2 separate regions of the Homo sapiens genome follow, and region 1 is linked to region 2. The links come from fine-mapping of genetic effects on gene expression. A gene starts in region 2. The other region holds a variant in brackets. All regions are shown on one strand. Distances are from middle to middle.

The links.
Region 1: its variant is fine-mapped to the expression of GARS1-DT in kidney cortex (GTEx, PIP 0.99).

Annotation. Positions count from the first base shown.
Region 1 is chr7:30,593,803-30,596,719 of GRCh38, reverse strand. It overlaps GARS1 (glycyl-tRNA synthetase 1), which reads right to left and starts at 1,842. Exons shown (of 17, transcript NM_002047.4): 1 at 1,577-1,842. The coding sequence starts at 1,798. RefSeq lists a silencer at 551-650 and enhancers at 546-1,159, 1,160-1,773, 1,794-2,143, 1,774-2,387. The variant G/C (reference allele first, on the strand shown) is at 1,675.
Region 2 is chr7:30,576,091-30,579,007 of GRCh38, reverse strand. GARS1-DT (GARS1 divergent transcript) reads left to right here and starts at 1,229. Exons shown (of 7, transcript NR_038889.1): 1 at 1,229-1,359; 2 at 2,298-2,444.

The DNA.
Region 1 (2,917 bases), 18 kb before region 2:
ACTAACTTAAATCAACTAACTCGTATATTCGGAAAATATCTTAAAGTACAAAACAATAATCAAGACAACATAAACAATACACAAGACAGTAGTTAGTAGCATCGGAAAGCTGCCGCGATCAAAGTTTACTTTAGTTAACTAGATCCTGTCTTAACTACCGATGGATGATTTTCACTGCAGTTCCAGGCTAACGTGGCAGAGGGAGGGGTTTGGGTGTGGTGGTTTTTTTTTTTCTCCAAATTAGTTGTATGCTTCCTTCTAAAGGGAAGGATATTTTTTAAAATGGCAAGTTAAGAAAAGACAAAGGAACCACACCTAATTTTATTTGTGGAGTGGAAGGTGGGTGGAGGGAGACAGAATATGCAATCGGTGTTCTGACACCAATCATGAAGAAAAAAGTTAAGCCCGTGGTGATATTTCAAAATGAAAGGCTATTTATTAAAATCGGTCAGGCTCAAACCAGCGAAGAGGACAGATGGCAAAGTGGCTGAATTTGCGGCAGCTATGCCCCAATGAATTATTTCCGAGATAGGGTTCCACCCTCTGTAGCTAAGGCAAATTATTGCATCAGGCGCCCATGCAGGAGAAACCCGTTTGGTGTTTACTACTAAGTCATGATCTCCGGGGTCCTACTGCAAGCTCTGGCTCTCCCTAATTGCATATGGGAATCATCTGAAATAATCTTTTCCTTGATATCTCTAAATTCTAAACTCTATGGCAGTGCCCTAGGAAAAGGAGGTCTATATTAAATCACCAAGTCCTTCAGCCCATGAAACCTTCCCTCACCTTCGGGAAAATCAAATGTCAAAATATTCCATACTAAGGATGGCTGACTTCACTCCGCAACACTTAGTTTCCCAGGTTTACGATCTGAGGGCTCACTGGTTCCAAACGGCCTTTTCAGAAGCCAGAAAAGATGACAAGAGCAAAGGATGATGAGTTCACAGCATTAATAGAAAAGTTCGACACCTCCCCACATCCACATTTCAATTCTATTTTCTCAGCCAATCATTCCGCTAAACTAAGCACTGAATGAAGGAAGATGTTAAGGGGGAAACACTATCAAAGCATCCTAAAGATTAAAGGGCCTGGCCGTAAGACGAAAGAACCGGCAGTTTTTCGGCTCATCATTGACCACTGAAAGAATTAGGAGGCTTTCCACCCAGGGTGCACAAAGAGTACAGCAGAGCCTGGAAAACTGAAGTTAAGGTTATTCAGTTAGGAGGCGAGGACAACCAAAGGGTCACAGATCCCAGCCCCACTGGAAATAGAGGAGACGCGGGCTGTGACAGAATGGGGAAGGGAGAACGGAGCCGGAGAGGGACGCAGGAAGTCGGAGGGGTTCCAGGGAGTCATCCAAAAAGAGAGGAGGACGGAGGTCCGCGGGAGAGGAGGTGGCTGACGCACGGGGGACTTGGGACCAAAGTGGGGGAGGCGAAGAAGACGCCAGAGGATGAAGGGAAAGAAAGGGGTAACCGAAGAGGAGGACAGTTCCCCGGGGAGGAGGGAAGGATGACCAGAAGAAGGCCCTGGGAGGAGAGCCGGAGGCTTAGCGGAGAGCGCAAAACACCGGTACCTGCTGGCGCACTGCTAGCCTCAGAGGTGCCAGCACCTCCTCAGCCCCCGCGCCGTCCATGCTGCTCCGGGAGGCGGCGGCGGGCAAGGAGATCGGGG[G/C]GCAGGAGGCCGCGCTGAGGGACCGGCGGAGCAGGAGCGAGGGTCGGGCTAAGAGCCGGGGCGGCAGCAGCAGCAGCAGAGCGGCGCGAGCACCTCTAAGCAGCACTGGACGCGGAGAGGGCATGAGCCTGCGGCCCTGGGCTGTCCAGAGAGGGTGGCGACGGAAGCGGCGCGCGCCGCCCGGCTCGGAGCATGATGAAATCGCCGCGTAAACGACGCGGCGCGCGTGCTGCCGCACATTCACCACCGCGTGACGCGGCGCCGGGTCGCCGCCGCAGATTCGACACAAAACCCGGAAGGACCCCGCCGAAGGTTTTCTCCGGTTCGGGAGAGAGGTAGGTAGGGTTGCGAGCGAACAGATTTGCACAGAAGTGCGTCAAGCCACCCCAGCAGGGTGGATGTTCAGGGACACAGCTCTGAGCGAGACCTGCAGGCCGAGACACACGAGAACCTTCAAAGCATAGGTTTTTATACGAGTGACACCCCGGCCGACCTACTTGAACGGACACTTCTGTTTCTGTTCTTTCGCGCCCTGCGCCTTAAAAGGGTCGCAAAACATCAAATCAGATAGGGATCTTAGACTTCTGTTGCTCAAGTGCAGATGTTCCCCAGATAAGGAAATAGGCCCAGAGAGGTTAATGATTTGCCCAGAGTCACACATTCTTGGTCCGCCGATGTCAAGACAAAAGCTGGCGAACGGGGGAGGAGGAGTGAGGGGATAGAGTCACCCCAGGCTTTCTGGAGAAGGTAAATTCCAATCTGCCCTTGCGGGGCGAGCAGGATTTGAACCGGCAGAGATGAGGAAAGGCAAGAGGTGCCTGATAAGTCTTTCTGCTTGGCATAGCCTCAGTCTATCTGCCTCCTGTGGTTAGGCCCCAGCTGACCAACCACCCAGAGATGGCTTCCCCCCGCCCCACACACCCAGTTCCTCCTGCCCAAAGGGTGGAGGGCCTAGAAAAGCTGGGTTCCCCCTCCAGGAAAGGAAGAGAAAAATGATGTGTTGGTTATAAAAACAGCATTGCGCACACCTGCAAAAATGGCTAAAATGAAAATGATGGAAAATGCCAAGTGACCCTCTGAGACTCCCCTACACTGCTCAGGGGAGTGTTAACTGGTGCAGCCAGCCACTTGGGAGCTCTTCGGCAGTATGCACGTACGTCTCCCTGTGACCCACAATCCCACCCCAGGAGTGTGCAGGAGTAGACGGGCTCAGTATAATGAAGTCTCCTTTCCTAATGGTGTG
Region 2 (2,917 bases):
AGGTGAGGGACCTGAGTCCTTTTCCTTTTTTCAGTCTTTCAGTGGCCGTTTCCTAGTAGCTTCTTGGTAATTGAGGGAAACTGGCCGGGACCACTCTCTACTGTTACCTGAAGGCCAAGGAGTGAACCTGGGATAGCTCTCCTGCCCAGAAGGCGGAAGGACTCTTTTGTATCTTTTTGAGTTATAGTCCCTGATCCCTACCTGTGATGCAATTGGCAGCAGAAGCTCGTCCAGGGTGAACTCACACACATTTCAGGCGACTTAAACCCTCTTTCTTAAGCTAAATTCTCCCATAAAGTTGGCCTGTAAGGACAAAAGATAATATCTCTTAGATATTTTGACCTCCCTTCTCCTACTGAATCTATTGACTGGCTGAGGACCTTTGGGACCCACAAGCTTTAGAACACATTCTACATCTTGGACCTCCACTTAAGGGAGCTTGGTGGTCATTGCTTTGGCATCAGTTTGCTTGCCCTGAACCCCGTAGAAATTCTATATATCTTTTATATACCCAATATAAACCCAATCTTTTATATAACCTCTGCACCATTTCTTCATGGGGAATATCCCACTAGCCTTGGTACCGTTAACTCTGCAGTGTTCGGGAACCTCCTTAGTCTTGCAAGGAATGCAGGAAGATATGGCCTATCTAAATTGGTAGGAAGCTAGAAGCTGAGACCTTCATCCAGGGACAAGAGAAAAGCTCATATTAGGCCATTGCCTCTGGAGGGAAAACATACAAAGCAACACTGGTGCCCACCTAAGGTCAGAGATGTCTGACACTTTTAGACTGGACCTCAAAGGGGGATGCCTAGGGGATCCAACTCCAGACCTCAGCCTCTCCAAAGGGGATGCCCTAGGCAAAGGTTCTCAGGTCTAGTACTAAGGCCTCCTTAGAATTGTCTCTCTCTTGCAGACCACTACAGGAAACACTCCATTTATTCCACCTGACTTCCCACTTGGCTGCATCCTCAACCATTGAAATGAATTTGACCCTGATAATCTAAGGAGGAAACATTTGATATTCTTTTGCAATAATACTTGGCCCCAGTATTGTTTGGAATCTGGAGTTTGCTGTTGAATGGGAAAGCAGGATGACGTTGCATGTATCCAGGCTTTGGTGCTGCTGTCCTAAGAAGGGTCAGGCCTAGTCAGCATATGGTGCTCTCCTTTGGTGCTATTTGGCTCCAGTGTCTTTGGAGTCTGAGGAGGTTTGGCCTTTAAAAATCAAACTGCCACCGGAACTGCTTTAAAAATGTTTGGTTCACAGCCTTCACTGGATTACCTATTGGAGCAAACAAAGTGTAACCATGTAAAACCTGTGAGCTTGTATTGATATCTCATGGCTAGAGTTCCAAGGTAAAAGCTATTGGATCTTCGTTTGTGTGTGTGTATACATGTCTAGATGTGTTTATTTGTATGTACACTTATTGTTATATGTTGTGTCAACCAAATCAGCTTATAAATAAAAAAGCACTCATAAATTAAATAAATAAGTCCAAGCAATTTTCAAGTTCATGTGACTTAAGTAAATCTTCATTAAATAGCTGGCTTTAAAATTATTGGTAAAATGAAAATAGAAATATCTTCAGAATTGTCAGCATACATTTTTGTCTGGGTTTTATATTTGTCTTTGCTAGAAATGTTGAAGTGTCAGCATTTGGCATAGAAGATTATAAAGCTATTAACCCAGCCAAAACAAAATGGCCTTAGTTTATGTGGCTTCTTTGACAAATGAGACTAATTTAATATTGTTAGCTAAATCTTCTGGGTTATTGGCAAAAACACCTATGTATTTAACTGTGAGGTTCTTATTTAGGTGAACACATAATGTTCATTGGCTATTAAAAATGGTTAACAAATAAATAACTAACTTTAAATGATGGTGTCTAATATCTCAGTTTTCAGAAGTAATCTAGATAAACTGTTAAAAATGAAAGACTTAAGTACATGTAAATGGGATGAATGATTAGGTAAATTTTGTGTAATTTAAAATCTTAAAAGTATTTTTGATGCCCATTGGATATCTCAGTCATTTCCAATTAAGAAAGGGTTATGATAGGGAGGAATATGTTTCCAAAAATTGTGGAATTATTCTCATCTATAAAATGCTAATATCTGATAGTTTAGGATTTTTTGCTTCCTAAGGTTTCACTAAAATTTAAGGTTACTAAGATGATATGGTTTGGCTTTGCATCCCCACCCAAATCTCTTCTTATAACTCCCATAATTACCGTGTGTTGTGGGGAGGGATCCAGTGGGTGAGAGATGATTGAATTATGCTGTTCTCATGATAGCGAATGGGTCTCATGAGATCTGATGGTTTTGAAAATGGGAGTTGCCCTGCACAAGCTCTCCTTTTGCCTGCTGCCATCCACATAAGATGTGATTTGCTCTTCCTTGCCTTCCACCATGATTGTGAGGCCTTCCCAGCATGTGGAAATGTAAGTCCAATAAACCTCTTTCTTTTGTAAATTGCCCAGTCTTAAGTATGTCTTTATCAGCAGCATGAAAACAGACTAATACATAAGGATATGAATTATAGTTAATATATAATTCTGTATACAAAATATGCCAAAAAATGTGTTATTGGTGAGAAAGAATTATTTTGTGTAGTTTGGAGGTTATCTGAAAGTTAATTCAAATTATGGACTTTAAAAAAAAGAGTTATTTATGAAACAAGGTAGTAAGGAACCAGTAAGTAGGGGAGAGATGTGAAGAAAGTTATATATATGAAGATATGTTTTTGTGAGGGAAGATTGTAGAGATGGTGGCTTTGTAGGAGAAAAGATCTTGTACGATAAATTCTTGTCCTAACGTAAAATGACTGGTTGTTTAAAAAGAAAGATGTTTAGGAAAACTCAGAAAGTCCAAGCATTTTGTAGATGGTCTGGGTAAGTTATGAAAAGAATTCATG